2 separate regions of the Homo sapiens genome follow, and region 2 is linked to region 1. The links come from fine-mapping of genetic effects on gene expression. Tissue or cell type: whole blood. Region 1 holds a variant in brackets; the other region holds the start of a gene. All regions are shown on one strand. Distances are between the middles of the regions. Region 1 overlaps LINC01781 (long intergenic non-protein coding RNA 1781). Region 2 holds the start of LINC01781 (long intergenic non-protein coding RNA 1781).

The links. PIP is the estimated chance that this variant, and not a neighbour inherited with it, causes the effect. A credible set is the group of variants that fine-mapping cannot tell apart.
Region 2: it holds the start of LINC01781, and the variant in region 1 is the best candidate, but not a certain one, in a credible set for the expression of LINC01781 in whole blood (TOPMed, PIP 0.56).

The regions. Positions count from the first base shown.
Region 1 is chr1:80,644,877-80,661,946 of GRCh38, reverse strand. LINC01781 (long intergenic non-protein coding RNA 1781) reads right to left here. Exons shown (of 3, transcript NR_125941.1): 3 at 15,159-15,384. Among named protein-coding and RNA genes, the nearest start is that of LINC01781, 120 kb to the right of the region's middle. The variant C/T (reference allele first, on the strand shown) is at 9,123.
Region 2 is chr1:80,526,289-80,543,358 of GRCh38, reverse strand. LINC01781 (long intergenic non-protein coding RNA 1781) reads right to left here and starts at 7,604. Exons shown (of 3, transcript NR_125941.1): 1 at 7,417-7,604.

The DNA.
Region 1 (17,070 bases):
TCAACTGAGCTTTGTAATTTTTGTTGCCTACAAAATAAACCAAAAAAAAAACCCACCCCCACAAAACAAAATGTAAACTCCCATTGCATTTAGGTCTCAATGCAACCTGATCTCCAGCCTATTTTTCTAGATTTATTCCCCTAGATCTCCCATTCACACTCACACTTTGGGTTTTCCAGTAATGGAAAAACTCACTCTTCATCTGTATTCATCTGACAGTCACTTAGCCCAACCACAGAATTCCAATACCTCAGCCTGAAATGCTGAGGAACCATTCCTGTACCACCTAAATTCTTTATTAAAATTCTGCTCAGTTTACTCTAATTAGGGCCCAAAGAGTATGGAACCTTATCCAACAACAAATAGAATTACTTGCAATGTTCCTATAGCATGTAATTTTTAATTCTATTATATTGCAGTCTGATTTGCATCATAGTGACTATCTCTCTTCCTATGAGTGTGAGTTCCTTCAACAAAGGCATCACATCATCTTCATCTTTGTACTAATATTTCAATTTCGTGGGGGCAGATTCAGAATGAATAATTGTTATGATGAAGTTAATTAAATTATAGATTGACCAAATAGAATTATTGTAAGATTGAGTGAGTGGATCAAGCTCAGAGAGGACAAATATTCCCCCCAGACCTTTTGATCACAGTGCCTCTGATATTAGCAGGAAAGCTGTTCCCACGACTATAAGAAGCCACTGAATCAGGAAGGGGCAGAACACAGAGCCCCACTGTCTTTGCCCCAATGGGGAATTCTTCCCACATCATGGCAGAGAGTCATCTAGTTAGGATCCTTGATGCTTCTGCTACAAACTTTATCATCAGAAATGATTGCATTAGGTTCTTCTTCTCTTGCCATAACTCAGTTTCAAATCTAAAACTTACAAAATGTGTTTGGCAGACACTAAATTACAACAGAACTCCCGAGATGAGAAGATTGGGAAATACAGTTTGGATTATCTAGCCTTTTCAGTACAGGATAGCACACCAAAAAGTGATTGGAATGGAGGTTGTGTGGGAGCCAAGGCACAGTACCTACAAAACTTCTGCTGGAAATATTTGTCATCCGTACATACCCTTCATCCCAAATTTAAGCTTCCAAACAGGAGCATTTGGAAACACAATATGATGCCAGCTAACATGATGCAATATCTCTCTATAAATTAAAATGAGTTCTAGCAAGCACTGATTTCATCTCTGTGTGATCATTTCTCCTCTAATTCTGTCACAACCCTGAACCAAGGATAAAATTATAAAGTTAACCACCACCCACACTGAATATAAAATTATAGGAGAAAGGAAGAGATGAAGGAAAAAAGTAAAGTTAGCTAATAAAAATATACACATAACAGAACAAGGAACAATATGTTAGCCACTGAAGACCTCATTTGTACAGCTGGTAGTGATATCATAGTTGGTATTTATAATTTTGGTCCTGCTCCTTCAAGTCCGTTTTCTACTTGCTTCTCATCCAGTGCCTAACAGGAGTTTGGATGGGTAATTCAAACATTCACATCTGAATGGTCTGAGTTCTTAGAAGACTTCCTTATATTGAAATGCTACAGTTTTGCCATTATTATTATTATTTGCAATGGATATGACAGTTCTATCAGGCACACAAAAGAATGCACTGGTTTCCAAATATTTCCTGTGTCCCTAATGCACAATGGTCACCTTATTTCCCCTGATTAATGAGGATCAATCACACTCACCCACCTTGTAACATTCTGTGTAAATACTGAATAAATATCATGAGAAACCTGGAATGGCCAGGTGGCAAGCTCAAGTCTGACTCCAATTGAGCTATCGTTGTGTTCCCTGATGGAAGAATTTCTTCCTTGAGTACTAAGATCTCCAAGCCAGGAGAGGTCAAGATCACAGGAATTGAAAGCAGCATTTTGTAAATGGGTCATAAAGTGAAACAGTGAGAGGTGACCCTCCTACCCCCATTCTTACCTCCCAGACTCATGTATTTCAGCTGTGACAAAAACAAACAAACAAAAAACACCATTATGCTTGTTGGTTAAGAAGATAATCCATATGTACACATCAACAAATCATATGAAATTATTTTCTAGTTGGTAACATTACTGAGCAGTACATATAGTCTTCCACTCTCTTAAAAGGCTCTCTGACTCTGGATGATGGAGTACATGATATGACTCTTTAGTGCTGTGGCAATTATCCCCTTGCTCTGCTTTTTTTGCTGTAAAGCAAAATTCTTGGTCAGAAGGAATCATATGCGGATATTTTAGAGTGAAGAATGAATGCAGTAAACTTAGGAATGTTGTTTGTAGAATCACTGTGGGCAAAGAAGACAAATCTGCATTCAGAATAAGTGTGTATTTCACTATGGGCAAATTGTTACTTATTCTATTATCAAAAAAAGAAAAATACACGTAAGCGACATTTTACCGGGAGGTAGGTGTTTTCTCCAAGTTATGGTGTTATATTAGAGGTTCAACATTCGTTTCTCTGCTAGTAAACAGGGTACTTAGGCCATGAAATGTAACATTTATTCCAGATGTCCATGTGGCTAGCTAAAAATCAGGAATTCTATTACTAAGAAAGGGAGAAACAGATGTCAGGAAGAAATTCATAGGCTCTGCCAAAACACCGAATCCACTGATGCAGATGTGAGTCTTGTCTCAGTTTAAATTCAGGTTATTTTTAAATTGTTATTTACTATAGTTTAAAAATAACCTGCATTTAAACTGAGGCTAGACATAACATTGATAAAGCATTACAAATTAAATTTTAAATAACTTTATTGAGAAATGGTACTAGGTCATTTCAAACGTTATCTCATATTTTTATAATAATTCAAAGAACCTATTTTAATATAAGCATTTAAAATATTTGCTTTAATATAGGCCTTTAAAAGACTAAGATATTTTAAGGATGTTGCCTGAGATCAGAGGGTCAGAACGAGAAGATAAGCCCAACACTTTTCAAACTCTACAGCCGTTTCTTAGGCTGAGATACTGCTTGACTTGTTATGTGATTGGATAGAGTAGGTAAAATTTTGTAAAAGTTTGCAATGTACTCAGTACTGTGGTGCCAGGCACTGTGTTAGCATATCATGTATTTTCTCATTTAGTCATATTGACCAAATGAAACAGATATTGAAATTAAATAATTTAAAAATTTAACTTTACCCAAGATCATATAGCTAATATGCGGGACTCATCCCAAGGCCATAGGATATCAGAGTATGTATTGCTAAATACACACAACTCTGCTTTCAGAGGTGAGATTAGATGGCACCAGTAACAGCTGAAATACTGGAATAACTTAAGAGTTAGGAGAATGTAAATCTGAACTATTATCATAAAGAAATACCTATTTCTCATGAATAATTGGATGAATAGTATAAAAATAGTCTAAACAAAAATTCAATGTAATTTATATGCTGCAGAAGTATTGAAGCATGAATTTCAATAAATTCTTTTAAAACAGAATTATAGTGAAAGTGAGCACTAGACATCATGTGTATCGTCACCCTAAAGAGGAAAGTCATTCACTTTTATATAAATATATCTTTATAAATTATTCCTTTTAATAGCCAATTTGTGACCTAGATTTGTACTTGGCAAATAATTGAGAATTGGCATTTAAATCAGACATTTGTGTTTAGAATTACAATTTTAAAAAATAATTCAACATCATTTCTGTGGAATAAAAGTCTAAATAAATATTCTAACTTATTTTGGGGGTTTTTAAAAGGTTAAGGAAATCTTATTGTACTCTAAATGTAGAATAGACTCATGTACAACACAGATCAGAGCAAACATTTTATCAAAAAAAAAGTCAGTGAAGCAGCCCTCTAAGAATATTAAAATGCTTAGTTTCCATGGAATGTGTTTGACAGTAAGATTTTTAAAAGATCTAAGAGGCTGACCTTTCTCCTCCACAAACTAAGTAGACTTTTTAAAATGAGCACATCTGGTTTATGTTCCTAAACCTCTGGCCTTTAAAAGCTTTGTTCCCAATTCACACAAAATACCATTCAGGATTGCTTGACACAGTGACCCTTCCCTGTAGGTGGTTAGGTGAATAAAGTGATTAAGTAGATTCAGGAATTTAGCATATACGTAGCAAGTTAACATTTGCATCCTGAAGTGATTAGTAAACAGTACTGTTCATTGGGGTATTTTAAGCAATTTTACTTTTTGAAGTTCTAATTATAAAATATTACTGTTTTTCAAAAACCAGATTTATCTTTCTTGTAAACAATTATACTGGTGCTATTATCTGGTAATGTAGAATAAAGCACATGCTGTTATAAACTAAAGGTATTTTGTTTTATTTCAAAGCTCCAACGCTGTTACTAGAAAAAAAAAATACTGAAAGGGTGGTCAGGTTGGATCCATAAATCTAGATGGCCGTTGAACATTTAACCAATTCTTTGGTACTCAATTGAGTTAAACATTAAATGGTGCATTGGCAAGGAAGATTTTATTTCTATGAGGCCCACTAATAAAATACTCTGAGTTATTTGTGTAGAATGTAATTCCTTATGACTTTGCCTTCCATTTGCCTCGAGGATATACCAGTTTAAAACTGTTCAGCACACTACACCATGCATAACAGGTAATCTGCCTAATTAAATCCTATAAGGATGTTCTCAGTAAAATGCTGAAGAGCTCCCATAACCTCTGCTTCACCCTCCCCATGCACCAGAGCTTCTGAGATTGAGAAACCCCAGCCATTAACTGAACTGTTTACACTTGAAGCTCAAAGTCTACTTTGCTAGAATGGCTCATTTCACATTTTACAAATCTGTTTTCTCATTTATAAGCAGAAAGTAATTTGTCAATTTTTTAATATTATAATTCTCAACTTGTTCTGAGAGAAAAGGATCTAACATACAACTGCAATTCATATTGCAAAAATCATACTGTGACTGGAACTGCTATATTCAGAGATCTAATAAGATTTACATCTATATTTTGAGTGCATTCATTTGGTATGTTTCAATGAATTATTAATTATGACCAACAATAAAATATTATTTTGCTCAGATGCACAGCAATAGGAAAGATGCCCAAGAGAAATTTATCTGACAGCTCAAAACAAAATGGCCAAAATTCACTCATAGGTTACTCATCCAACGCAGCATGACTCATATTTGCCCATCAAAAGCACTCCGTGTGTGTTTTTCTCAGCTTGTCAATGTTTTGTCAAGAGAATAAAAGACAAACTTTAGCCTTCAGATTAAAAAAAACGTAAATTTAATGATTAAAAATAAAATATGATAGATGAATAATTTTTTGGAAAGCTCTTCAATTATACTAGAAATTGATAACAATGATTTTTATTCAATTAGCATCAATATGGCCAGAACCATCACCCCATATAACCAAACTACATATTATATATTTTATTGACCTATTTCTGTTGACACAAAAATACTACCTCTTTTCATATTCCCTTCTAATCATCCTTTCTATTCTACTCAGTAAAATCCTAAGAGAGAAACCTCATGCAAATTACTGACTCATGCTTTTTCTTTTATTGTACACATTGGACTGAGTGCCAAATCAGTCCTACATATTTACTCAATCTACATCTTTCAAGTTTGCTCCTTCTTTTTTAATCCTTAGGCTGTTTCAGGCTGGGCTTTTGGCAGTATCTTTTTTCTCAACTGTACAAACAGCACACGAATAAACCCTCCAGTCTGTTGCCTGGCAGGTGTTCTAGGGATATTTCAGAGATGGCCACTAGGGCACTGGCTAGTTCCTGGTAAGCTTCTTCAAACCACTTCAGCTGAGTTGCCAGCATCTAGCTGCTAGTCACTAGTTTCTCAATCCCAGAAAGAAGTTAATCATAAATCCCAAGAGATAATGAACTCTGTGAAGGGCAGATGCTAGCTAAACATATATATACCTGATTTTAGATCCAAATAATTGGAGACAGATTAGCGTGTTTGCTAGGAACACTAACATTCTAGTACAAAAGAGCTGGGTTTAATTTCCTGCTATGCAAGGATCTCAGAGAAGTTGCTTAATTTTGTGTCTCAGTTTCTTCATCTGAAATAATGATACCATTAGGTTTTATATAGAAGACTGAGAAAATGTTTGTACAATGTTCTCAATGCTAACAAAAATCAACTCTCAAAAGTTATAATTAGATCAACTCTCAAAAGTCAGAAATCAACCTTTCATATCAATATAGTTATGTCATTACTTAGACTATATCTGCTATTATTCTGTATTTAAATTTTCACAAATCACTCGTGATCTTCAACCTGTACTTCAAAACAGGTATACTGGATTTTCCACTTCTCTCCAACTGCTACATTTAATTTTGCTTGTCTCTCTCTTTTCAATCACCTTTTATAAGAGCCTTTGAACAGAAGTCACAGACTGCTAATTATGAGATTCTTTTAATCTTTAGATTTTTTCAAGAGAAGGTAAAAACCCAGAGTTTTGTGTGACAACTCATATAAAAATTGACAAATAATGCAAAAAAAAAAAAAAAAAGATTAAGTTTGGTATTATTGGCCCACATTAGCTCATGGCAAAACTCAATTTATTCCCTTTATTAGCAGGTTACCCATCATAACTCAAATTGCATACCACATCTCTGTTATCTATGTACCTCTTAGAGGCATTTAACTTTGTGTTGTTTGCTTCAGAACCTTGTCCTAAGGCTAAATTATGTGTCTAAAATGCCTGTATATTAGGTTTCTTTTCCTGTTTTTCTGCTTACTTTGAAAATATATATTGGCATAGCTTATCATAGTCCCGTTTAGCCATGAAACATTCACAAATATCCTGTCTTAATTCCCTATTAAGGATTTTTGTTTTAACCTCAATATGTAATATATGCATATTCATGGATTCTAAAATTCAACATAAATCAACAGACTTGCTCTGATAGTGAATGATCTATGCAATAAGAACTGCAATTCATATTGCAAAAATCACACTGTGACTGGGTCTGGGTCTGCTATATTCAGAGATCTAATTAAACCTACAAGCGTATTTTGTATGCGTTCATTTGGTATATTTCAATGAATTATTAATTTTGACCAACAGTGAAACATTATTTTGTTCAGAAGTACAATAGGAAAAACACAATATGAAAGGTAATACAATTTATAGAAATATAAAACAACACAAGCCCTAATAATAATGAGGAGACGGGCAAGTTTAAAATAAAATTTGAATACAAGGCTAAATATACTGAGATAAAATAGTAATGGGAACAAGAACACTGGAAGCACAGAGGAAAAAACTCATGAGAAAAACCTGGGAAGGCACCTGGAGACAGTGACATTTGAGCCAGGCCTTGAAAAGTGGTGTTAATTTGGAGAAGACAATACAGAAGGGGAATGGGAACAGCTGGTGATGTGGTTTGGCTGTGCCCTCACCCAAATCTCATCTTGAATTGTAGCTCCCATAATCCCCACGTTTGGTGGGAGGGGCCCAATAGGAGGTAATTGAATCATGGAGGCGTGTTTTTCCCTTGCTGTTATCCTGATAGTAAATAAATCTCATGAGGTTTGATGGTTTTATAAAGGGCAGTTCCCCTGCACACGCTCTCTTGCCTGCTGCCATGTAACACATGCCTTTGTTTGCCTTCGCCTTCCACCATGATTGTGAGGCCTCCCCAGCCATGTGGAACTGTGAGTCCATTAAACCTCTTTTTCTTTATAAATTACCCAGCCTCAGATATATCTTTATTAGCAGCATGAGAACAGACTAATACAGCTGGATACATGTGGAGAAAGGCACACGTGCAAGATATACTTGAAAGTTAGGAGAATCAGATGTTGACGAGGAGGTAGGTGGAGGATAGTAGAAGATAACTGTGTTAAGAAGATGGCCAGTAGAGGTTGGGCACGGTGGCTCACTCCTGTAATCCCAGCACTTTGGGAGGCAGAGGTGGGTGGATCACGAGGTCAGGAGATCCTAGCTAACATGGTGAAACCCCGTCTCTACTAAAAAGTACAAAAACTTAGCGGGGCGTGGTGGCGGGCGCCTGTAGTCCCAGCGACTAGGGAGGCTGAGGCAGGAGAATGGCATGAACCTGGGAGGGGGAGCTTGCAGTGAGCCGAGATCGCGCCACTGCACTCCAGCCTGGGAGACACCGCGAGACTCCATCTCAAAAAAAAAAGAAGATGGCCACTAGAAATACCATGTGGTCCGGGCGCGGTGGCTCACGCCTGTAATCCCAGCACTTTGGGAGGCCGAGGCGGGCGGATCACGAGGTCAGGAGATCGAGACCATCCCGGCTAAAATGGTGAAACCCCGTCTCTACTAAAAATACAAAAAATTAGCCGGGCGTAGTGGCGGGCGCCTGTAGTCCAAGCTACTTGGGAGGCTGAGGCAGGAGAATGGCGTGAACCCGGGAGGCGGAGCTTGCAGTGAGCCAAGATCACACCACTGCACTCCAGCCTGGGCGACAGAGCGAGACTCCGTCTCAAAAAAAAAAAAGAAATACCATGTGCTTGACTGCTTGGCCAAAGTTAAAGAACTTCATTTTGAAGGCAATTAGGAAATCACCGCAGGTTTCTGAACAAAATAGCCAAGAGACTAGAGTTTTATTACAGAGTGGTACAGTAAAATTCCACAGGCATAAGGTAACAATGAACAGGATGAAGGTACTTGAACCCTTTCCAGTACAAATGTCAACTGATTTAGAAACAAATATATATCAGCCAGCATTGAAAAGATGACAAGATAGGCATTCTTCACCAGCTGTGAGAAATATAAAAAAGCAAAAATGTTGGAGTGTCAGGACCTAGCATAATAATTGAATGTTGTTTTCCCGTTATGTCACATAATTTGAAAAATTTGTAATGAGAATCCATTCTCCTCAATGTTTGTTAATGAATATAAGTGTGCCAAGGTACAGTACCAGATTAAACATTAGCCTTTCTGTGCACTACAAAAATGGCCACGGCCGTTCAACAACCTTTCCAAATCTGATCATTTGTCTTCTATTTTTAATTGTGAATATCTGACTTTTAATTCATACTGTTTACAAAACTTTTTAAATGTTGCGATAATAATATGCATCTCTCTTTATAATGTTAAAACCATTTCTTTTTTCAAGTTCACAGAAAATATTATTATTCATATAGTTTATCTCTTTGACATTAA[C/T]ATTTGCAGGATCAACATAACTAATAAATGTTCCATCAAAAATAAACAGACTTTCTTACTTTCAAGAATACTATAAGAGGTGTTTTCCAACTTGCTGTGTACAATTAATACTAGCCAAAGGGTTTGAAGCTTTTCTTATTACAAGTAAAAAAGACTAAAGAGAAAACTAGGGAAGTGAGATATTCTAAAAATGGGTCATATGTGTAGCTCCGAATGTCTACCTTTGACATAGATGAGTTTTTTAAAAAATTATATCAGAACGTAAAATAACTTTTATTCTTGTTTTTTAATTACTTGAAAACTAATTACATGTTCTTGATATCTTCGTTTAATATCATGCTCATAATCCATATGCTAGTTCTGCTTTACATTTGAGCTCATTTTATAATAAATCCTCATGACTGGGATCTTAAAGACACACATCTTATATCAAAATTTAATGAAAGAATGTATTATGATTTTTCTACAGTTCAAAATTTTAAGATATTTGGTCCTGTTTATCCTTACTTTCCACCATTGACCAGCCATGGTTAACATAAACCTCATCCACAAGAAAATCTGTGGCATAGTTAAAGCTGTTAGAATTATGGGGAGAGTAGGCTCATCTAAATTAACTATAAATCAGAATATATCAGTCATCAATATCACCTATTCATTGTTCAGCTGCTCTGCATCTTTAAAAGGTGTGTTTTCTTTTGCCTTATGCTATGTAAGTACTCCATAAACATATATTTTCCTAGGCATAATTAAATGAAATATTTTCTATGTGGACAGATAGTCATCACTCTTTATCAAGACATGTGGACACCTCATGGTCATCTAAGTTGCTTTGGTTTCTAGTACTTGCCTCTTGCCTTGCTTCTTCATCTTGGCACATACGACATTTTTGTTCAGTTGTCTGTTTTTAGCTATAGGCACTACCTTTGGTTTATACGTCTGTAGCAAGAGACACAGTCATTCTGTAACATACATAACCTAATATTACAGTGTTTAATATTACAAACATTTGGACCCTGATCTCCACTAGAATATTCAGGAGAGAGAAAAAGTCATAACCTATCTTGCTTATTGCTGTGTCTTCAGCATTTTAGCTGGCTTTCATTGACACCACCCCAGTAGAAGCAGTGGGTATATTCCCTCATTTCTTCCCTGTATGTGTGAAAGTCTAGGTTCCTCAGTCAGCCTCCAGTAATACTTCAAACCTTTATATAACACCACACTGGAGAGGGTACTGGGGTACCTCATTATAGCCTGAAGAGTATCAAAATCTCAGCTCACCACTCAGCCTTTGCTGTCATGGGTGATGAGGGAGCCATATTTTTTTCTGTGGTATTTGACTGAAGTAGAGTGGTCTAAAAGTTATGTCATTCTGGGTTGCCCAGTTCCTAGTTATTTGGTTAGATAGAGAAAGAACATACTTTTGATGGTGATGGTGAGTTTTTTGTTTGTTTATTAAGTGTGCACTTTTTTGTTTGTTTTTTCTTTTTGCTCTGCACGCGTTGGTGTTTCTGGGTTGCCAACTTCTGCTTTAAGCCTAGGATATAGGAAGGAAGAGGAAAACACCAAAATCACCACTCTGCTGTTGCCTTGGTCCCAAAGTCCACAGCCAATCTGCCTTCTTATCTTCACTCTGTAGATCTTTCTTATGTTTGTTTTGTATATATATAATGTCTTGATTTTAAGTTATACTTAGATGGAGGAATAGGAAAAAAGTGTGTCTACTCCATCTTCTATATACTTGGGAGCTAAACAACACACTTCTAAACAATCCATGGGTTAAAGAGGAAATCTCAAGGATAATTTAAAAATATACATTAAGACATGAATAAACCTACCTGAGTAAACTGACAGAGCAATGAATGAGAATTGTTGTCTCAAAGGCATCTGAGGCTGCCAAGAGCTGACTAATGGCTAAACTACATGTGGGACTTCAACTAAGAGGTGTTGTTGCGAATAAGACTATTGAAAGCAGCCTCTGTCAGTCATCGCCAACATGTGCCCACTGATAGAAGTTGGAGCCAACAGAAAATACCATGGAGAATCACAAATTGAAACATAATGGAAGAGAATATAATAATGTGTTTATTAAAGAAAGTTCTAATTGTCTACCATAACCACAATAAGGTAGCTATTATGGATTTTTTTTGGATCGGGTATGCTTTTCACTGAAGAAAAAGAATATACTTTTGGCAGTGCTACAGTCTCAGTGTTAAAGATAACCCTTGGTAGTGTCTAAGGCCCAGTATTTATTCAGTGCACAAATTATACATATTAAAAGTTTAATATACAATTTCTACATACTTTGCACATTGATCAATAATATATAAAATAGACATTATATACCTCCAAAAGTAATTGGATATTAAAATTTAATTTTTTGTTTTATGCATTTTACACTTTTTTTTGTTTTAAAGTTGGTTCATAAATGCTAAGATCACTTTGCAATGATTATTATATAATAAGATTTCTTTCTCAACTGATATGCCTTTAAGCTTTCTTTTCTATAGATTCACATACAGCAAAGGAATCCACTATGCTCCAGGTCCTAGAAATGTCCTGAACTGCTTCTGAGGAAAATGGTCTTGCCTAAAGTCATGAGGATTTGAATAACTTCTCTAGTCGGCTCTTTACATACTTTCTCTACCAAATCACCCTGTCTGCACTCATAGCTGTCTGCACTCATAATCAAGAATAGAGGCTGATTAACAAAAATAGGAAATTTGATGGTTCATGACTTCAAAAACAGCAGGAGATAAGGTTTAATTGCTTGAGAATGTAATATTCTGGCTGATATACTAACAGAAAATTGTCAATATATTAAGCTGCTATTGGATTTCCAGAACCATTGCTGTGTCCTGATGACACTATTTACTATTAAACTTCTTCTATCTGAACAGGCCTAAACTCCAGGGCCTATAGCCAGGGAAGTGCTATGACTATTTGGATCACTGTAATTCCTGGAAATAAGAAAGAAAAGGCGATGCCTATTTTCCCAGTCTATAGTTTCTTTTATGCAACTAAGCAGATATGTAAGGCAAAATGGAATTATAATGACATGAATTATAAACATATTGACTTGTCCAAATCCAGCCATCGAAGCAAGCCATTTGTAGATATCTCCAGAGTTGTCAAATGTATATATTTGAATTTAGATATTTATGTAAAACTCAAACCCATGCCTTTATTTCTACTTTTAACTACATCTAGCTTTTTTTTTAGTGCCTCTCTGTGTGCCTTCTCAGTACCATCTTTGTGTGGCCCACATTGCTCATTATTTCCATATCAAAATTAGGCCTATACATATTATATACGTGGCATCACAATGTAGGAGGTGAAGGAGTGTCCTGGGTCACCTTGTTTGACATGGCTTATATGGTACTTCCTTAATGCTAATTCTAAAGCTAATTGACTTTATTTTCAAATATATGCAAATCATAACATTCTTTTTGTAAAGAAGCAAATTTTTACTTTCAATTATATGTTATGAGAACAACTGAAATTAAAATGAACTATTTTTTTCTCTTGTTATCTTTGTGCTATTGGTTCTGTTTCAGTTTTACACCTGTTTTTCTTCAAAAAGTCATCTACTTATTTCTCTTATTCTATTTGGGTGTTGTATTAGCCCGTATTCATGCTGCTGATAAAGAAATACCTAAGACTGGGAAGAAAAAGAGGTTTAATTGGACTTACAGTTCCAGATGGCTGGGGAGCCCTTGGAATCATGGTGGAAGGTGAAAGGCACTTCTTACATGGTGGCAGCAAGGGAAAAGTGAGAAAGAAGCAAAAGCAGAAACCTCTGATAAACCCATCAGATCTTGTGAGATTTACTCACTATCACGAGAATAGCTTGAGAAAGACAGGCCCCCATGATTCAATTACCCATCCCTAGGTTTCTCTCACAACACATGGGAATTCTGGGAGATACAATTCAAGTTGAGATTTGGGTGGGGACACAGCCAAACCATATTAGATGTTAACATACTAATATATGTTATTATTAATTTTCTGCTCTATCAGTGGGATTAAAGAATTCATACAATATAAGTAAAAGCAATGTCTATGTTATAGAAGGCAAATATGAGACCACTTACTTAGCTCTTCTTTCCAACAAGATATCCCATCACAAGCTCCTGCAATATGGAAATTCTGGTGATCTTTAAAATGGAGTATTAAAACTCCATTACTTAAGTTACCTAAGGAAAGCTTTTGTTTCTTGCACCCCAAAGCTCTTAACCAATGCAATTTTTAATTCCAGAAAGATACACTGTCCTTTCCTGCTAGAATTTTACTATTCTTTTATGAAACCTGTAGACTTGCTGGGAAAGATTCTAGTAGTAAAATTCTTCCTTATATCATTAATAATACCTACATTTTATACATATAAGGTTAATGTTTGCCTTTAAAATTTCTAGTACTTAGCTGATACTAGAAATAATTCATGTTGTTTTTAACATTTTCAAAATAATCATCAAAACATTTCATAAAACCTGTGTCTTCTCAAAATATTGATTCTATAAATATACCTGGATAATACTTTGGGGTATTAACTTATGTTTAATTCTTCTGCTTGTAATATTTTTTTCCCTTCACTCCACTAAGATAGTTGGTTAGCTCTGTGCTTTAGTGCCTCAAAAGAGGTATGTGGTGAATCTGAATGGAGTAGTAATCTATAAAATGTCCTGTAATTTGTCTTCTAATAATTTTAGTATATTACACAGATAGACATCTTTGGTGAAAAAGGAAGGAGAAAGGGTTCCCTCAGGCTCAAAAGACATTCTCTTAGCTGTCAAGAGGAGAGAGTTATATATGCTCTGGAGTGATAGAAGCTGAGGTCCTATTTTCTGACAATGTTCTGGTGAAGGCAGTAAGATCCCAGAAAGATACACTCCAAAAGACATCTCAGGCTGTAGTAACAGAAGCATCAATGATTCCGTCTCATATATTGTCATCATATCCTAAAGGACACTGTATGAAGTCAGCAAGTCTCCCAGACCTGATGAACAGGCACAAATAGGTGAATGGTAGATTTTCATGGCCAAGTTGGTAAACTGCTAACTGATGAACAGAGACTGCGACACATGATCCAATTGTTTTGATGCTGTGTAAGATCCAAGAACCTTGAACATGTTGTCAAGTGGAGGACTGGATAGAAGTTCAAACAATAATTAAGGTTAATTATATTCTTAGGGACACAGACTACACAGCAGAAGACAACTTACTTTAAAAAATCAAGAAAATGCATTTTCCACATATCTTAGTTTGTGAACTGAGATTTTTGTCTGCAAACTTTCATACGTTAGTCACGTTCATACCATAAAACATGACTCTATTTGATATTATACTATTTTAAATTTTCAATTGTTTAATAATATTTTAGGAGGATAGTAGGAGGTGTTTAAAATAGTATTCACATTTTATCTTTTATCCAGGTTCACAGGGAGATCACCACTTTAAAGATGACAAATTTATATCTTATTAAATATAAGAGTATTGTTTTGTTACACAGTATGAGTTGCTGTAATACCTAGGATTTAGACCTAAATCCATTAATTAATTCTATAAAAATGAGATCTTAAGAAATTTACACTTAAAGTGCCTAAGAATTTCAAGGAGAATCTTAGATTCTTTTCTTGATTTCAAAGTGTCAACAGTTGATGGTCTCCTGTATTCCTTTCCTCTCATGAGACCAAATGCTTCAGAGGAGTGACCTTCTAATGTGGTAAATTGAGATCTAACTACTAATTACTAATTGTTATTGCAATTCTTGACCTGATCTCTAGAGCTGGAAAGCAAATCCCTGTCTCTGGAGTGTAACTAGATCTAATAGGCAGCCTCTGAGTTGACGCAGAGAGAGCATATTAGCAATTGAGTGACTTTCAAAGTGTTACCTTAATGAACACCATTGGATGTAATGTTTTGAAGCTCAAACTAAGCGAAGGTACTTTCCTTTTCTCTGACAGTAGTTAAGTATAAAATTTATCTATTCCTTTATTTAGAGTGAAGAAGCACATTAGTGAAAAAAGTATAAGAAAGTTCTCCATTGGTACATTTTTAATAGCTTCAAGCTGTTAACAGTTACATTGGCCCAAGGTATGGGGTGGCACATGTTATGGTTAACTGATTAGTACAGAGCCTCTTGACATACAGACATTTTTCTGTTACTGGTATCAGCCATGAAAATGTATTTCCAAGCAATTAAGCCTTAACTCCTGCTGGTTTGGAAGCCATGGACCTTCAAATTCCCATTCAAATTATTCAACACCTAACATGGGTAGAAAAAAAATACAACTTCATTAGTAAAAGCCACAAAGAAATCTATTGATAAGTTTTTAAAATTTCTTTAACATGAGAAAAATGCAAAAACGTTCAGATTGTAAATTAGCCACACAACTTTAAAATGACCTCACTTTCTTTTTTCACAACTCTAAGGATTTACTTTATGAGGTCTTAGGTTTAACAACATACTTCAAAAATAATGTGGATAGCAAAATAAATATGTGAAAGGTTACATGTAGGGGAGCAGGGAGAAAGGGCAAAGAAAGCAGGATCATAACTATGTGGTTTTCACTTGTTTCCAATTCTTATCTGAAGTAGATATCGACTTGGCAATTCTAAAATTAGAACAACTGGATACTGGACAAGTAGAAATAGTAATTGCCAAGTGATCTCCATTATGTTTCTGAACAATTTCTTCTTCCCTCTCTCACTCTCACAAACGTTTCATAAGCCCTGAGGAGACATTTTTATAGAAGGTCTATTTTCTTATCTCTAAATGGAATAGAGCAGGAGAGTAATATAAGACAGGAATGAAGAGTCATTCTCATCAGAAATAGTTTTGCATAATATTGGGGGATGTTTTGTATGTTTTATTCTAGAGGGTTGGATTATCATTTTCAGTACCTTATGAATCAACTTGTTCCAGTATCTCATAAGCAGAGTTGCCTCTACAAAGGTAGCATTATACTTTCAAAACATTTATGATAATGAGAGCTAGACTTCACACATGTTAGTTAGTGGAAACTGGAGTATGTAACTTTACCAAACTATTTAAAGTGGAAGGCTCTGTTATGGCTCTGTTACTGATTTCCCTTGTATTTTGTTCACACTATACTTCTTAAGAGTAGTTTACTATTTTTGTTCCAAATGTAAACTCAAAAAGTTTCCATTGTTAAAAGAAGTTAAATCTATCATTATAATGCAAAGCTCTACATAGATAGGTGACCTCCCCTCCCCTCCTCTTTTTTTTTTTTTTTTCCTCTGCAGCATATTACTAGGCAATCTAGGGTCATTCTGTTAAATATTCTCTCATCTGGTTTTAACTTCGGATTTTTAATTGTTAGTTTTTTGTTCTAACAAGAATTAGATGTTATGTTTTGAGCTTTTCAGATGGAAGTTATTACATATATGCTATCAAATTAACTTGAGAACTTTGTGGGATTTAATGGGTCAGTCTTTCTAGGGTAAGAAAGGAGAATGAGCCACGTAGAAGATCTGTGATGAAATGAACTACAACAATGGAATTATATCTGGAAAAGTAAATTTCTATTTCAAGTGTGTATTTTCAGCTCACTATCAGGAATTAGTACATCAGCATGAAGACAAACCTCATAGTGAGTTAATTGATTGTTATTAGGGTTCATCAGAGCAGATTTAGAAAGTGGCCAAGGTTTGTCATCTGTTGCCACTTTTCTTGTTGTTGCTTTTATTCCTGCTCTTTTAAATGTTTTATAAAAATATTTATTGAAACCTACCAGTGGTACTTTGTAGAATTTAATATACAAAAGAAAGGAGTATTCTTCTCCAGGACCTTAAAGTCTCCTCAGGGAGATTAAGAAGGTTTACTGAATTTTAAGTAACAGCCCACCAAATGGAAACTGTAAGTGCCAAATGAGTGGTAAGAACAGTGAAGACTTAAAAGAACTAACTTACAGATCAGTTGTTGGAGTGA
Region 2 (17,070 bases), 120 kb after region 1:
CACTTGCTGTACCTGATATTCTACAGGATATCCCAATTTCTTGAGTCACCTTATGAAAAGTGTGCTAAGGGAAATATATTCATTTTTGTTATTGTTTTGAAAAGAGGATCTTACTAAATTTCAACAGAAACAGCTTCTAAGAAAAAAATAAGAAATTATGCTGCAATGAAACTTATCACTTAACAATAATTACTAATTAAAAGATCATCAGCACTTTTTTTTTAATGGTTCACTCAATTTTAGCACTCATTCATTTGTTCATTTGCTTCAAAAATAGTTAGGTGTCTACAGGTGCACGTTGTTGTGTTTGTTGCTGGGGATGTAGAGGAAAGAAGTCCCTGCTCTCTTAGAACTCAGTCTTTCAGGACATTGGATATTAAACAAATCATAACTCTGCAAAATATTTAGTTACAATTATGATTTATGTTACAAATGGGAAATACAGAGTGCTGTAAAACATACAAAAGGGAAACTTACTAGATCTCTAAGAGGGGCTCAGAAAGACTCCCCTGAAGAAGTAACATTTAAACTAAGATTTGATGAATAATAGTTATTCAGGCAAAAAGAACAAGGGGATGGGTGCTCCAGGGAGATGGAACATAAATAGAAGGCTTGGACTTTCTCCCTCCACATAGCAAAAATAAGCATAGCATCTTAAAAGTTCAACAATAACTACTACTATATGAATTGCTTTAACTTTAACACAAGAGGATTTTATAATAGCTGTACATGCAACATGAAGGAAGCCATAATGGCATATAATTTATTTGTCTTTGAAATAACTGGATTCAAAGAATACCTTCAAAGAAACATATTTCCCATGCAAACACATATTCAATTGTGGGACAATAAATATGTATTACACAGTGCTCAAAATTTAGAACTTCTTTGCGAGTTCCAAGATGTGACTCATATATACATCTACTATGAAAAGAAGATTACACTCTGCTCCATGGAATGTCATTTAAGATAGAGTAGAATGAATGAACACTTGTAAGCAAGTTAGAAAGTACAGGTCCTAGTTGCAGTTTTACTGTGACCAGCCTAAGTTTTCATTTCTTTTTGCAGTGTAGGTAACATTATCTCCTTACAGGGACACTATGAGAATAAAATGTGTAATGTTTGTTTTGAATTTTGAAAATTGGTATAAACTATACAAATGGAATATTTTATCATTTTTTTCCCCTGAAAATTCTACACATATTTGGGTTTTTCTTATCTTTGATCAGATGTCTTCCCTTTATTGGAATGTTTGCAACATGTACTCCTTTTTTTCCCCTAAAGGTCCAATTAAAATCCCATTACTTTTTTGAGGCTTTTTTTCCACCATAGAAGTTATTTTCTCTACCATCTCTAAACTCTCTTAGCACTTACAAATTATCTGTGACTGGCATTTATTGACTTGTATGCTTATTTTAATGTGTGTTTCAAAAGCATAGTATTTTGATGTTGAAAGGGAAATTAAAGTTTGGTCCGATAGATTTCAGAGGTCGGGCTTTCCTTTGAATCATTTCAACCCACTTGTCAAATAAATTTTGCTTGAACAGCTCCTCTGACAGATAGCTTGGTATCCTTTGATTAAGTATATTTTACTTCTTGACATCTCTAAGAGAAAGTTATTTGTTTTTAATTGAGACTAAATATGTCAAATTGCTTTCATACCTGGCAACTATTTCCTGATCCTTTCTACCATCGTCTTCCTTTTTCTGGGCAAAGCAAGCTTTCAGAGTTTCAGGTATTTTAGTTATACTTATTTTTCTTGCCTAAAAATATTCCAGGAGAATATCTATCTATCTATCTACCTATCTATCTATCTATCTATCTATCTATCTGTCTATCCATCCATCCATCCATCTATCTGTCTGTGTGTGTATGTGTGTGTCTTATATTTAGAACTAAATGTATTATTTAACTACAATAAAATGATTATCTTTTGTTTTAAATATTATAATTCTGGCATTTCAGCCTCAAACTTCATTACATTGTTGATGATCATATCAAGTTTATCTTACTTTATATTAAATCCACATGTCTTAGTCTCAGGTGATTCTGCTAAATCATATATACCCACCATAGATTACTGCAATATCTTTTTTAGATATAATTTCCAGGATGCTAAATTATGTTCTGTTACTTCTGATGGTGAGTAGTAGAGAGTAAGCCAGTAAACCATAAAATAAAAATGTTATGTTTTCTTTTCTTAAATATACTTCAAGCTGCTTACAATGAGAAGCCATTTGCTTTTTTACCTGAATTCCATTACATAATGAACTTCAAAGCAAATAGGTGCCCATTAAACACCTAAGATATGATGATGATGATGATAATGAAATGATGATTTGTTTATATGTATTTATTGTTCATATATATGTATGTATAACTACATTTGCATATCCATTGTGAAAATACATAGAATCACTGTCCAAAGGATGACCTGCTCAAGATTTTATTAACATATATGTGAAGATGCATTTGACATACTCATAATATTGAGAAATAATAAGACATGCCCTTTCTGTAAATGGCAAGGAACACATACTTATTTGAGTCACTAGCAGGGATGAAAGATTTTATCATATTGTGAAATACTTGATGTTTTGTGTTTCCAGCACAGTAGTATATCTTAATCTTAACATAGTATAGTTAACTGAATATATTTGACACATTTTCCTCTTTCTAATGTTGTGCTTAGTTTTTCATGATGTGTAGCCATGAGACCTACCTTATTTATCATGTATTTCCATCAGTGCTTTATTTTCGACCTTTCCTTCTTCAAAAGCAGAAAAAAATCAAAGAGGTTACAAAAGGTAGTACTCCTTTATGCTATATAAACTTGAACCAATCTAGTGGATTTCTGCTCTACTAGTACATCACTTTCTCCTTTTATCTTGGTAGAGGGTTAGTTTAAATGTCATGATTAAACAAAAATGTTTTTGTATGCTGGCATATTCCCAAAGTTCTGTATCATGTTCAGATCACAAAGATTAAGGCATATTTTAACAGATAATGCAATCTTCTGCACTTTAAGAAAAAAAATTTAAAAAACACACCAACTGTTTCAGTCCGCAGTGTCACAGAGAACAAAATCTGTTCTACTTTAAAGACAAAGGGACTTATCACAGGCAATTAGTCACAAAGGCACACTTTAGAACTTGACCATCAAGGAGACTGCTGCCTCAGCCAACCATGATTAGGCAAGATGTGGAATCAGAAGGCTAACTATAGAATTGGGACATTTCAACTATATTTGCTAGTCCAGAACTGCACACCAATATTACACTCTCCAGCAGCAAAAATGGACACTTTCTGTCCTGCCTCTCATTCCATGAAGCTCTAAATCGAAGTCTTACTTCCAAAACCATAATTATAAGGGAAACTATACATTGCATTAAAAAAAAAATCTTGGCCAGGCACGGTGGCTCACGCCTGTAATCCAGCGCTTTGGGAGGCTGAGGGGGGGTGGATCACTTGAGGTCAGGAGTTCAAGACCAGCTTGGCCAATATGGAGAAACCCCATCTCTACTTGAAAACACAAAAATTAGTGGCCAGGCGCAGTGGCTCACGCCTATAATCCCAGCACTTTGGGAGGCCGAGGTGGGTGGATCACTTGAGGCCAGGGGTTCGAGACCAGCCTGGCGAACGTGGTGAAACCCTGTCTCTATCAAAAAATAAAAAAATTAGCTGCACATGATGGTGTGTGCCTGTAATACTAGCTACTCGGGAGGCTGAGGCAGGAGAAACGCTTGAACCCAGGAGGCGGAGGTTGTGGTGAGCTGAGATTGCACCACCGCACTCCAATGTGGGCAACAGAGCGAGACTTCATCTAAAAAAAAATAACAAAAATTTAAAAATTAGCCAGGCTGAGACAGGAGAATAGCTTGAACCCTGGAGGAAGAGGTTGCAGTGAGCTGCAATGAGCCGAGATTGCGCCACTGCACTCCAACCTGGGCAATAGAGCGAGACTCTGTCTCAAAAAAAATATAAAAATAAAAAAATCTTTCCAGTCTTTTCAGCAGAAGAAAACATACTAGAAGGGGATTAGTGTGCATATTAAGCAGGATGGTCTGTATTATACATCACATCAAGCATTTATTTTCAAATGTTCATGTTGACTGATATTGAAAATAATCCTGTGTATTAAGAAATATCTATCGTAATTCAATCCTAGATTATTAAAAATTAGATGTTCACAGCTTCTAAAACTAACTTATTTCCAAGTTACCCTTCCTGTTTTTCTCTCTTATCGTGGGAGAGGAAGTGAGCCCCCTGAGGGGAGCAACATTCTAGACAGAAATAAAAACAAGGGAAAATAATTTTGTCTGTATTTATTTTTATTAAAGAAAAAAGAGGAAGAAGAAAAAGAAAAGAAAAGGAATAAAAAAAATAGCACAGGTAAGCCAATGGCACTGGAGAAGAGTAAGTAGGAAATTAGAAGAAGGTGAAGTCAAAGAAGTTATGGAAGAATAGATTAAAAATAATCTTGTCATCAAAAGGAATTTGTCTCTTTTACTCAGATAGGAAGCCCTTAGGGTTTTGAGCAAAGAAGGGATGAACTCACTTGACTTCTATGTTGAGAACAGACTGCAGGGAATACATCATGGGTATAATAAGGCAACTAGTTATCATACTAGTAATATGGGAAAACAATGATAGTGAAATGGATCAGGTTGCTATCAATGGAGGCAGGTTTTAGAAGCAGTGATGAGTGTTTAACGTACATTTTTAGAGCATTTTACATATTTAGAATTAAAAGTAGTAGACACTGTAAATTGTTTTGAAAATTAGAAATAGATTTAACATGTAGGGCATTTGGTTAACACAATTTAGCATTCTTTACTGATCAGAAGATGCATTGTCAGTTCATGTGTAAGAAACAAAATGTCACTCAAAATTACAAATATATTGTTGGGTCAGGTATAGAGGAAATATAATTTCCAACTTTTGAAATATCTTGGCTGAATTAAGCAATCTATACTGTTATAAAGAACAAGATAAATCTTCAATGTCTCAAGTAAAATACCTTACTATTGGGAAGACCATCTGTATCAATATCAGGAATGTGTATATGGATTTCCAAAATTTTTGGTGATAGTAGAGAAAACTTTCCAAGGATTCTTCACTTCCAGATGACACTGTGCAACTGAGTGACCCCAGCCAATACAGCCTATTTTACTGATGGCTGACAACTAAGATTTTACATTTAAGTATCTTATTTTGCAAGTCACTTTCATAAAATGTTGAGAGTGATTTACAAAGCCTTTATGATTTGGAGGAGAAAAAATCAGTCAGAAAACAAAAACACATCTCCCTAAATAACAATGTTATTTAAATCTTCTACCATACAGAAACTACAGGTTTCTAAGGGGTATGAAATGCATCTTGATCTACTAGTTACTGAAAGCATAAAACTAATTAAAAAATAGAAAAAATAAATATCCTTGCCACATGAACCACATTTGATTTAAATTTGGCACTGTTAAAAATGGGATCAAGCACACAGAATTTCCAGTGTGTTAGATGCTAAGAAAGCCAGTTGTTGATAATCAGAAGTAATATGAGGTAGAAATTCTGTTAGTGAAGAAGACAGGTATAGCCTAGGATAATCCTGCTAATTAAAGCGTAACAGATTGCATGTCTTCTAGAAAAGAGGGATTCAAATATCAAATAACTTTGTAAGTAGCTGCTCAATAACTGGAGGTAACTGCAAGTCAGTGGTAGAAAGGAAGAACTGTAGAAGGAACCAATTAACCAGAGGCAGTTCAAGTTTGCAAGGACAAATCTGAAGGTTTCTCAAATAATCATGGGTTAATCTTAGCAGGAAGAAATTAAGAAACTAATATGTATAATATGAGCTTTAATCAATTTATTGTGAGAAAAGATAATTAAGAGAAAAGAGTTTTCTAACAAATGAGTAGGGGCATGCATAATAACTTGAAAATGATTAGGATAGTTCATTTGTATACAGTTCACTTCTCTAAAAGAAAATTAGGAAGAGAAATATAGAATATTAAGGCATAATAAAGATCTTATTGAATTAGTAACTGCATGATAGGTAGTAAAAGGAATGCAAGGGAGGTTTAGTTATTTAGATATATTAAGCAGCTGCTTTACAAATAAAATGTCAGAGGCTTAAAAGTGTTAACACAGTGTCAGTATCACCTCTACCCCTTACTGGGTGTTTGACTAAAGACTATGTCCTCAAACTTGCTGTGATCAGTTTTCTCCTCTATAAAGTAAAGTTTAAAATAGCATTTACCTCTTGGACTTGTGATACTTAATCTGTACAAAATGGTTAGAAAAGTCTGAGGCACTTAGGGAAGATTTGATAAATGTTAACTATCATCATCATTATTATTGTTATTTTAAATTATTTCTTTATAATTAAGCAGAATCTATTACGTTGATGATTGATTCTGCTTTCTACGTTATATAGAATCTGAATTAATATAACAAATATTTGTTGTTTGCCTGCATTATTTGAGACTCTGTGTTAAGTGCTGGGGTAAAAACTGACCAAGATAGACACAGTCATTCTCTTTAGGCAGTCTGACTGGGGACATGTGCAATTAAGTGAGTTGAAGTGGAAAAAACAAATGCCTCAAGAGAGTCAAATGTGGATAAAAGTGCTTTAGAATCGGGCCTTTTCAAACAGTAACTTCAGAGATCTGGCCTGGTATTTGTAAAGCTAAGGAAGCTTTCATTAAGAGGTAGAAGCCTTAGTTACTGCTCTTTTCTTAATCTAATTAAGTCTAAGGAAATATACTTTGAAAAAGTGGCTGCGAGATAACACATTATGCTGGGAATTACGATAGGAAAAAGAAAGGGTCCTGTGTAAGAATCTAATGGAGCAAGTAAGTGTTCTGGGAAGAGGGAGCGGGGTATGAATAATCACAGAAACGTAGTAAGAAAATTATATTCTCTTAATTAAATATTTTATAGGCCTATAATAGGAGTATTATATTAAAATACACTCTTTAAAACTTGTGATCTACTAAAAAAATAGAAAGATTGATTAATAATATTGAAAGCCTTAAGAACATAAACACTGAGATATGATAACTATTATTGAGGCTGCCTTTGACAAAAAGAGGGAAAAACATTTTTAAAACATAAAAATAATTGAGGGAAAGAAAATTCTACTTTGATATAAGAAATATCACAATAATGTTTTATCTCGTGTTTTTTTTCATAAACTCCAATCTTAACAGGATTACTATATGACATTACTGTAAAATATCTTTTCTCTTCCTTCCCCACTTTCACCACTCCATACAAGAAAGTGCCACATGTGGTCATAATCTGAATAAATGATAGAGAAAAGCAGAATCTACTCATAAAACTCAAAAAATAGAAGTCTTAGAAATAAGCATAATGTAAATTGAAACTAGATGTCCCATTTTAAAGACAACACCTTACCTTGACAAACGCTGTCAGGAAACACCACATTTATTTCAGAGCAGAACATTTTTTCTCTATTTCTTCCCTTCCATCCTACCTCATGAGGAGAATATTATACCAGTAAATCTCAAAATCATCTGGAATATAATTTCAATACGTGAAAAAAATCTGTAATTTGTCAATAGTCTATTTAAAACTAACACTCAGAAAAAATGGCAGCACACTAAACATTATGTGTCTAGTTAGGAGCACTTAAGACATCATTGTTGAAGTCCTTTCTGTTAACATTTAACCTCCTGGGGTTTAGATAATAACTTATTCATTAAACTGCTAACTCCCTTTCCAGCAGGATTTGCCTATGAATTTTTAACTGGGGCCGAACCTCCAGATGTCTTCCTCCTCCAACTAAATTCTTACCATTTCTTTTCCATGCTGCTCACTTCTTGCTTCCCATAATCAGTTAGCATCTAAGAGAGCCCAGTTTGTGTGGCTCCCCAACTAAATATATCATTCTGAAATTATTCTCTCCACATAAGTTCAGTACACATTAGGGCTATAAAAATATTTCAAGTTCTGTATAGGATGTATTCTAGGCTCATATTTACTTATTTTTTTCTCCATGCTAATTACTCTGTTTTTCACATTATTGAAGTAGAGTAAAATGGTCTCTTAACACCCATCTGTAACTCTATTTTCTTTTATGTTCAGATTCCCTAAATAGCCTCACAAGATGATCATTCCTTTCCATAACCTCTAAGAGAAGATCTAAGAAGGAGCTATGAAATCAAAGACCAAAGATCTGACTCTTCTGTGAGTCACTCTGCCCTCTACAGTGACTGTTCATTACTTAATTTTACAGCCTAGTGTTGGGGTCTGCCTTCAAATGTTCTGTGTCGTGTCCAACACACTTTGTCATTTTCTTTCTAATCCTTGTGATTATTATTGTTGTTATTGTTAGCTTCCTATGTAAAACTAGTTCTCAGCTTGATGATATAAAAACTATTTTAGCCATAAATGTATCTCTTGTATTTATATAAAAGGAAAAGGAGTATTTTAAACACTTCTGACAACTAATAAAGCCAGGTGTGTGTGTGTGCATGTGTGTGTGTGTGTGTGTGTGTGTAGAGAGAGAGAGAGTGAGAGTGAGAGTTTAATCTAGGTGTTAACCCTGGGGTCTTGGAAAAGTTCCCATTTGAGTAATTGAATTTTTATTAACTCACTTCCTCTTGCAGGTATTTTTCATTTAATGCAGCACAGTGTTCTGTATTATTTCTGGATGCTAAGTTGTTGCTACATTTCTCCCTGTGGTGACTACATTTCATCAATGAATAAAGCCGTAACTGATACATGAAATCATTTTATTTTGATATATGTGCTTTGGAATCCTCCCCTATTTTAAAACAGATACTGGAAAAGAAAAGACAGATGATAGCAATATAGATAGAGGAAACAGATATCTGGGGGATTCCTATTATTGAAAAAATAGTCTTATTTGGTTTTGGTATTATCCCCTAAATTCTGTAGACTTTTGTTTCAGAAAATAAAGAAAATGAATGGATTCACTCATTTATAGGTGATCCATTTAGGGAGTCCTTGGGAAACAATAGTGTAGACTTAAAAAAAAATGTAATAGGAGATAGATCTGGCTATTTTTTTTTCTTGTCCTCTGAATAATAGCTGGTGACAACACAGATGTTAAACACAAAATATTACAGGGATTAATTCATAGCGCTCTAGTTTTCATCCAAGGTCATGTGCAGTGCAAACAATAAGTTCCAGCCAGGCAGTCTGTAGTGGCAATTAAGGACCACCTAGGGTGGGGGTGAAGCTGAAGGTGGCTCTGACCCTAGGAGGTCTACAGTCACTTCAGTGTACCTCCTTGGAATGCCTTCTTGTTCCTATAAATTAAACAAAAGTGAATTTTCTCCCCTTTAGGGAACAAACAATCCATGCCTCAGATCCTGCAGCCTAAGCATTTCCTCCTTTAGAATTGCAACTGAATCTCCTCTAAACAGCAATTAGCATTTTAATAGTATTAATAACATTCACGATTTTAACAATCTGAAGCTTTCTGCTTTTTATTGATGTCTTTTGTTGCAATTTTGTCTAATAGTGTGCCCAGGGTAGCAAAATATAACCAATTAAAACATTTGCCAAACAGCAAGGAATCTGGAAAGTTTCAATGCTGCTCGACTAAAAATGAAAATGGTTGTATGAAAATAACATTTCCAGCCAACAAGACCAGGGGACATACTGGCAGTCCTTTATGTTACGATTCTGCTTCAGAACTAGGGTAAATCGTTCAGTGTTACCTTACTAATGTCAGATTAGAAAAACCAAAGCTGGCAGTCTCACATAGAGTCCCTGGAAGCCTCAACTCCATATAGTTTACAGAAAGCATAAGTATACAGAAAACTGGGTAGTTTTAGTTTAGTATAAGATTGCACTATTTGTATGGAATCTTAATTAGATTCCTTGGTTATATATTCTCAAAACACCTTGTGTTTTTCTTTCAATTAACACAGCATATCTACTTATACAGTAAAATATTAACATTAAATACTTACTATGTGCTAGTCAATGAGTCAGCAATTTATCATGAATCATTTAATCTTCACAATAACTCGAATACTGAGGTCTATTATTAACCTTTCATTATAGACACTGAAGCTTAAAGATGTGATTTGTCCAAGGTTAAAGAGCTAGTCAATGATAGAGCAAAAATACAAACCCTGGTCCCCCTGCCGTCAGCCTATAACCTAGTGTGTACTTTGGAGGTATAGGGAGGAGGGGGGTTGGTTTTATTTTGTTTTGTTACAATGTCTGCCTCAGTGACAAGGCTCTAAAATTGAAGAGAGAAAGAATTGTTCCTGTTTGCTTCACTGCTTTCTCTCTCTAAATTAGCATGGTGCTGGGTGCATAGTAAGAGACAGCTGGATCTTTCCTAAATGAATGAAAAGTATGCATAGATTTGCCTTGTCTAACTAGATTATCATTGGGCTTTGTTTTCTTGCTTGGTGTCATTTATATCTTCTATGTTCCTGATTCCTAAAGGAAGTATACAGAAGTTTGAGCATTTATTGGTGCTTTATCTTCTTGGTAATGTTCATTTGCTTCTAAAGGTGCGTGTTTATATATATGAATAATGTTATATCCTCTGTTCGTTCCAAAAAAGTATTTAGGGTATACGGTTCTAAGAATTTATTCTGCCATTTGTGAAAGTTCTTGCTTTCCACAATTAATCATCAATTTCTCTATTTCCTAAATTTCTTTTTACTTTTTACTTTTTTTGGACAAATTATTCCAATTCTATTACTCATCTGGCTATCCCATTATGTCAAAAGACTCTATATAATTTCCTATATTTGAAATAAACTATCACTATTTTAATAGGCTTTATATAGTAATATCCTGAGCTGAATTGGGTCAGATTTGGGTAAGAGCAACACTAAAGTGCTCCAAAACCACTTCTTGTAGCTCCTATTCCTTCCAAATAAATACTTGTGCTTGTGTATACACTAGCCTGAGAGAAAAAGGTCACCATAAGAAATGGTTTTGGAGCATTTAAGTATTGCTCTTACCCAAATCTGTTGCTCTTACCAAATTCAGCTCTTACCAAATAAATTCTTAGGATCATATACCCTTTGATAGTCATGCTTCTCAAATTTAAGGATCAGAATCACCTTGGGGGCTTTTTAAAATACAAGTTGCAGGGCCCATATAGGAAAGATTCTGATTAAGTCTGGGGTGAGACTTGATTATTTGTATTTCTAACAAGGTCTCTCATGAGGCTGCAAGATTATACTTTAAGTAACACTGAACTATATAGAACTACATTGGAAATATATAAACTATATTAGAGCAGTGGAAGGTTCAGAAATCAGACATTGAGAAGAGTCATAGTAATGCTTCTGATTCTCTGCTATCTGATGCCTCAGCCTCAGTAGACCAGTCATCTAGTCCTAGAGGATGCCATCAAGCAGTGTGATGCTCTTCAATGTACCTCTTACAGGAAATATAGAAAAGTAAAAAAAAAAAGAACAGCTAGCAATTCTGCATCCAACTCTTGTATTCCTTCCACAGTTCTGGATTTGAACACGATATCTAATTCATGACCTTGTTTTTAAACATATTAAGCATGAAACAAATATATTTTTATTAAACATATTAAGCATGAAACAAATATATTTTTATTATTTTTTAGCAGATGGCTATTTAATATTTTTATTCAGTTTCCTACTCATAGTGGTTGCTGTTGCCAAACCTTTGACTCAGCCAACCATGCTCCTTTCTTTGATTTATTAGGCTTTAAAAAAAAACTTTGTCTTTGTAATTTATATGATTAGGAACTCCAGGAAGAAATGACAGTCCAACCCATGGCTAAGTATATGCTCTGTACTTGAGTAGTGAAAAGTTAGTCCTCGTTAGACTATAACTCCCAGCCCAAAGGTCCACATTAAAACAAAAGCAACTAAGAGTGATATCACTCATGCTGATCCAATCTGTGTAGAGGAAAAGAAGTGGGCCTGACTTCCATAATTTCCTTGGTATAACCACAACACAGCATTTACTTCTTGGCATTGACTCTACTGAGTTATTGAATCTTTCACTTGACAGGAAGCTCTTTGATGGGAGGAAAAAAAACCTCATCAAACAAAACCACAGTTTCTTTATCATTGTGTCCCTAGTGCATAGCACAGAATTTAACTCATTGTGGGTGCTAAATTTCTATTTACTAAATTAAAACCAATTCCGTCCTTGAATGACAATTTCTATTCTAATAATATTTTAACATGGGATTTGAGTACCTTCAAATTCCAAGGGAAATTGTGGTAGAGAAGAAATAATGAATTTCCACTTTAAAAAGTTCAAAATTTTCCATGTTTTGTGTGAAAACTTTAAAGGCATTAAAAATTTTATATTTATAATAATTATCATGAATACAAAACTCCAAAATAATTTTGTTGCTATTCAGCTTTTAAAACAAGCTTCCCTTATTCTCTTTTGATCCATTAAGATCTGAATGAACTCAACACCTAACTTTTGTTGTTACTGTATGAAGTACTAGGCATTCTGAAGTTGTACATACTTTACATCTAGCTTTTGCTAGCTAGGGAGCTCATTAACAGTTACTTCTTCTTGGCGAATAAACTGCCCCATGAGAGTAAAAGAACTGCTTAATTCATAAGTTCACATTCTTTTAAGAGGTCACTTAACCTTCTAAGTCAATTATAGGACATTAACAATACTCTGCCTCCAACAATTATTTTTCTAGGTTATGTAGATATAGCTGTTTGAGGCCTGACCAGATATATTCAGGCTCTATCACTCAGGTCTGTCTGCAAAGGCAGGGTTAAATCACTTTCTACTGAGATTCAAGATATCAAGGGAAACACTTCACAGTTATTTTGACTGCTGTAATATCAATATTCAACATGATATATGGAAATAATGAAAAAAACTAATAAAATTATTCTTTTTTATTAAGCTAAGGCAGCGATTGTGGTAAGTGCAAGAATACTCCAGGCATCTGAAGTATTCTTTTAAAAGAACAGAAAACATTAATAGCAGATAGGTAAGTTTCCTCTTTCTTTACAGTATATCTCAGTCCTTTCAAGAGTGAAATGGAAAGAAAGGTGCTGATCTTGGCATAGTGTTGTTGCATATTAATAGGAGCAGTCATAAAATGACTAATAATAAATGTGTTAAGTATCACAGAAGTAGAGACATAGGCATGGTCCAAACACATTAACACCTGCATTCTAAATTAATCCTTTTTCTTTCCAGAGGATTATAAATATGAGCCATTTCAAGTGTAGACTTCCGAACCATATAAAGTAAGCTTCGGCAATGTCAGTCTCTCTTAGAAAATAGACGAGTGGGAACCTTGATTACATTTATCCAGCAATGTAAGGAGATGAAAGTAACCAATACCTTAAGCCACCTAGGGTTGCATATTTTGACTAGTATAACTCTAAAACTTGAAGAAATGCTTGGAATTAATATTTTAAAAAGTTCTTATGCATCAAGAAATGTGATTCATCTACTAAAGTTTAATCTGTAATTGAAACATTATTCTTCAAGTAAAAACCGAATAGATTTAGGGCATGGTTACTATTTTTTAATGTTATTGTTAGAACTTTGAATAATGTTTCAGTAAAGCCACTTAAACATTACAAAAGCACACCACACCTGATACTGCGTTGTCAGCCCCATGTTCTATAATTAGTTGGTGTTTTACCTGATACCTTATTAGCTTTCAGAATTGCTATTTAATTCTTTGCTTTGAATTTACAACATTCACAGAGCACTGCTGAGGGATTTGGAGAGTACTTAAGAAATATGTATTATAAATTGACACCCCTGTATCAAATTTTGCCATTTTTACTTGAAACTACAACTCTAAATTGCTTATTTAAATAGTTTTAGCTTATGTTCCAAACAAACGATGCCTTCAAGGGAATGGAGAATTAGAATCTTGCTACTTTAAAAATGTACCCTAGAGGTAGAGACTCCACATATGGTTGTAGTAACCAAGTCAAAGAGCCTGGCCCAAGTGGCAAATCTATTACTTTGCAAAGAAAGTATCACACTGGCGATGGCTATGAAAATCTGCACATTGTGCTATCTTTATGGAGTGCACGAATGTAAAGTCAGTCAGGAGATAAGGCAATAACTTGGGGTTATTTCTCTCCGGAAAATATATACCTTTCTGTTGTTGCTTTCTATGATTTTTTTATAGTAAAACTTTATTTTGGGCCGGGCACAGTGGCTTATGCCTGTAATCCCAGCACTTTGGGAGGTCAAGGTGGGCGGATCACCTGAAGTCGAGAGTTCGAGACCAGCCTGACCAAAATGGAGAAACCCCATCTCTACTAAAAACACAAAATTAGCCAGGCATGGTGGCACATGCCTGTAATCCCAGCTACTAGGGAGGCTGAGGCAGGAGAATTGCTTGAACCCGGGAGGTGGAGGTTGCGGTGAGCAGAGATCACGCCATTGCACTTCAGCCTGGGCAACAAGAGTGTAACTCTGTCTCAAAAAAGGAAACAACTTTATTTTGGACTTTTGATTTTGACAGATAATTGAGAGATCTATGTTTCCTTTACGTGTTTTCTCACCTACAATTCCCAGTTTCTTGCATAAAGAGCAACCTGTATCACTATGATATTCTTCTAATATTCTCTTGGTAAAGCATCTGCATCATGTGGTGAAAAGTCTGATATCTGTTGCAATTGGTTGGTGTCAGTGCTGTAAGTTTTTAAACATTTTGAAAATCATCCTTGTAATATGACCATGGTAATAGCTAGGCAGAACAGGGAGGCCACAGTACTGCTCTTACTTAGTAGTGCTAGGTTATAAAATAATGAAATAAAATTGTATAAAGTTAAAATACCCTTAAGGCTCTATGCATTGCATAGCTCTAGAATTGACAGGAAACAGCATGATGGTTACCACTCTAGTAAGCCCTGCACTTTCTCATACATTCGTCTACATCATATATACACAGTTAGTAACATGTCTCCAGTGCAAACCAACTGGCAAGAAACCTAAAGAATAAGAACATGGAGAACAAAAATGTCTTCTAGTGTATCTTCTTGGTCAAGATCATTGCACTGTTGATAATGCAGCTATCTTGTTGATAAATCCTTTACATAATTACATCTCTAACTTCCCTTTTTTGTCATCAATAATGAGTCTAGCAGGATTCATATGAGTCCGTTGCCTCATTTCAATTTACTGAATACTTGAATGTGTTAGAGTCATACATTTGAAATGAGCTTTATCAAAGACCGAGATTTAGATAATAAAGCAGTTAGATTATATTTGTCCAAAAGTTCTTCTATTATAGCCTCTTTAAATTTCAACAAATGTAGATGCTATAAAATATTTAGCTTTCTGTAAAATATTTGTATCAGCTTATGCTCATTATGAACGTTTTCATTTCAGTGGGTAAATGAAACCTTTGTAAGGCACAACAGTGTTCAAATATCAATATATTAAGCAATGTATTATGTAAATTCATAAGTAAAACATTTTCCTTTCATTATTATAAATATATTTATTTAATGTAATGGTATTAATATTGTGTTTATCTTTTTAAAGAAAATGGTAATAAACTGTTGTCAGAGGCATATCAAACAAGTTTCTGCTGGGCCCAGGTAAATACAACTTAGGCGTTATCAATTGAGAATGAAGACATTATTTTCCTTCACTGATTCTTTAAAAGAATTCTAACCATCATTGTGCTACTCAGTGTTTTAGTTTCTTTGTTGAGCTAGTGGGAATTAAAAAAAATACCATACACATAGTGATAAAAAGTAAATTATTTATTGTTTAAAAAAGTTTTGAATTTTTATGAACCTTTTAGGTATTAGGACTTATTACTTAAATGATACTCACTAAATAAATGAAAATGATAAATGTTGAGTTACAAGGGACTCAATTCTAAACTATTTTTCCAACATGAAAGAATGTTTCTCTATTATTTCCATCAAAGCATTGTTTAAATAATGATCTTTTTTATTTATCCTTGTTTCATTTAAGCTTTGAAATAAAGGAATCTATTAAAAAATCCTTCAATCCTTCAGTTGGAGTTAAATTATTTCTCAAGTGAGAAAAAATGATGATAGTGTTCACATATAGACATAATCATTATCAGGCAATCTTGGTACTTATTTTGCCAATATAACTGCTAAAAGCCAAAGTTCCTTAAATCTAAATGAGTCTTTCCAACCCATGCTCTCTGGTGATTAAAGCACAGAATTTTTAGAAGCAGGCAGATCACAGAAAGAAATATCAAAAGCTAAGGTTGATGTCAAATCAATGCCCAGGTTTAGCTGATTCTTGTTATATTTGGTTTCAGCATTGATCTAATCTAGAAAATGCTGGGCTCACTGTGAACTCCAAACAATGTACTTTTTAAAGTGTAATGGTATATTTCATAATAAAACATAACACTTGAAACTGCAAAATAAAATACCATCAAAATATGTATAAACAAAAAGGTATCTTCCTATTTAAAAAGAAGGTAAAAATTATTGTTTTTTTTTTCTGTTATCTGTCTATAGTGCATATCACTAAGGAGTCTAGCAATCAGCTCCTTAAAAAAAATCATCTTTCTAGTCCTCCTCAGGACCCAAATCTGTATTTCATTATTTCTATCACATTTTAGATACCCAATATATTTTGCACCTTTTAGCAGCAAAGCTTTATAAATGAGGAGACATGTTGATTTGTCATAGATTTCATTGTCAACTATGTTTTTATGAGGGATAATATTTTAGCTAGTCTCTCTCTCTCCTCTATAAACAGATATTTATACTGACTGGATTTTGGTCTTTGGTATTAATAACAACAAGGTTATCAGAGTTAGCTCCTAACTCATTAACAGATAAAAAAGTCTACTATCTGATGGTCAGAGTACTAAGATCACAGATGGATTATCTATGTTGTTATTTATTTCTAAAGAAAAATAAAATAATCTGGTAGGCCTTCTGCTTCCTAATTGAGGTGAAGCTTTTTTGGAAACCTATTTGCTTTTGTTTTGGACATCTGAATTACTTGAATGTAATGTATTGTATAACTACCAAAAGCAAGATGATCAATAAATATGTACAGGGGTTGTGAAATCAGAGTTTGTAGCTTTGGTAACAATACTTGTGAAAACAA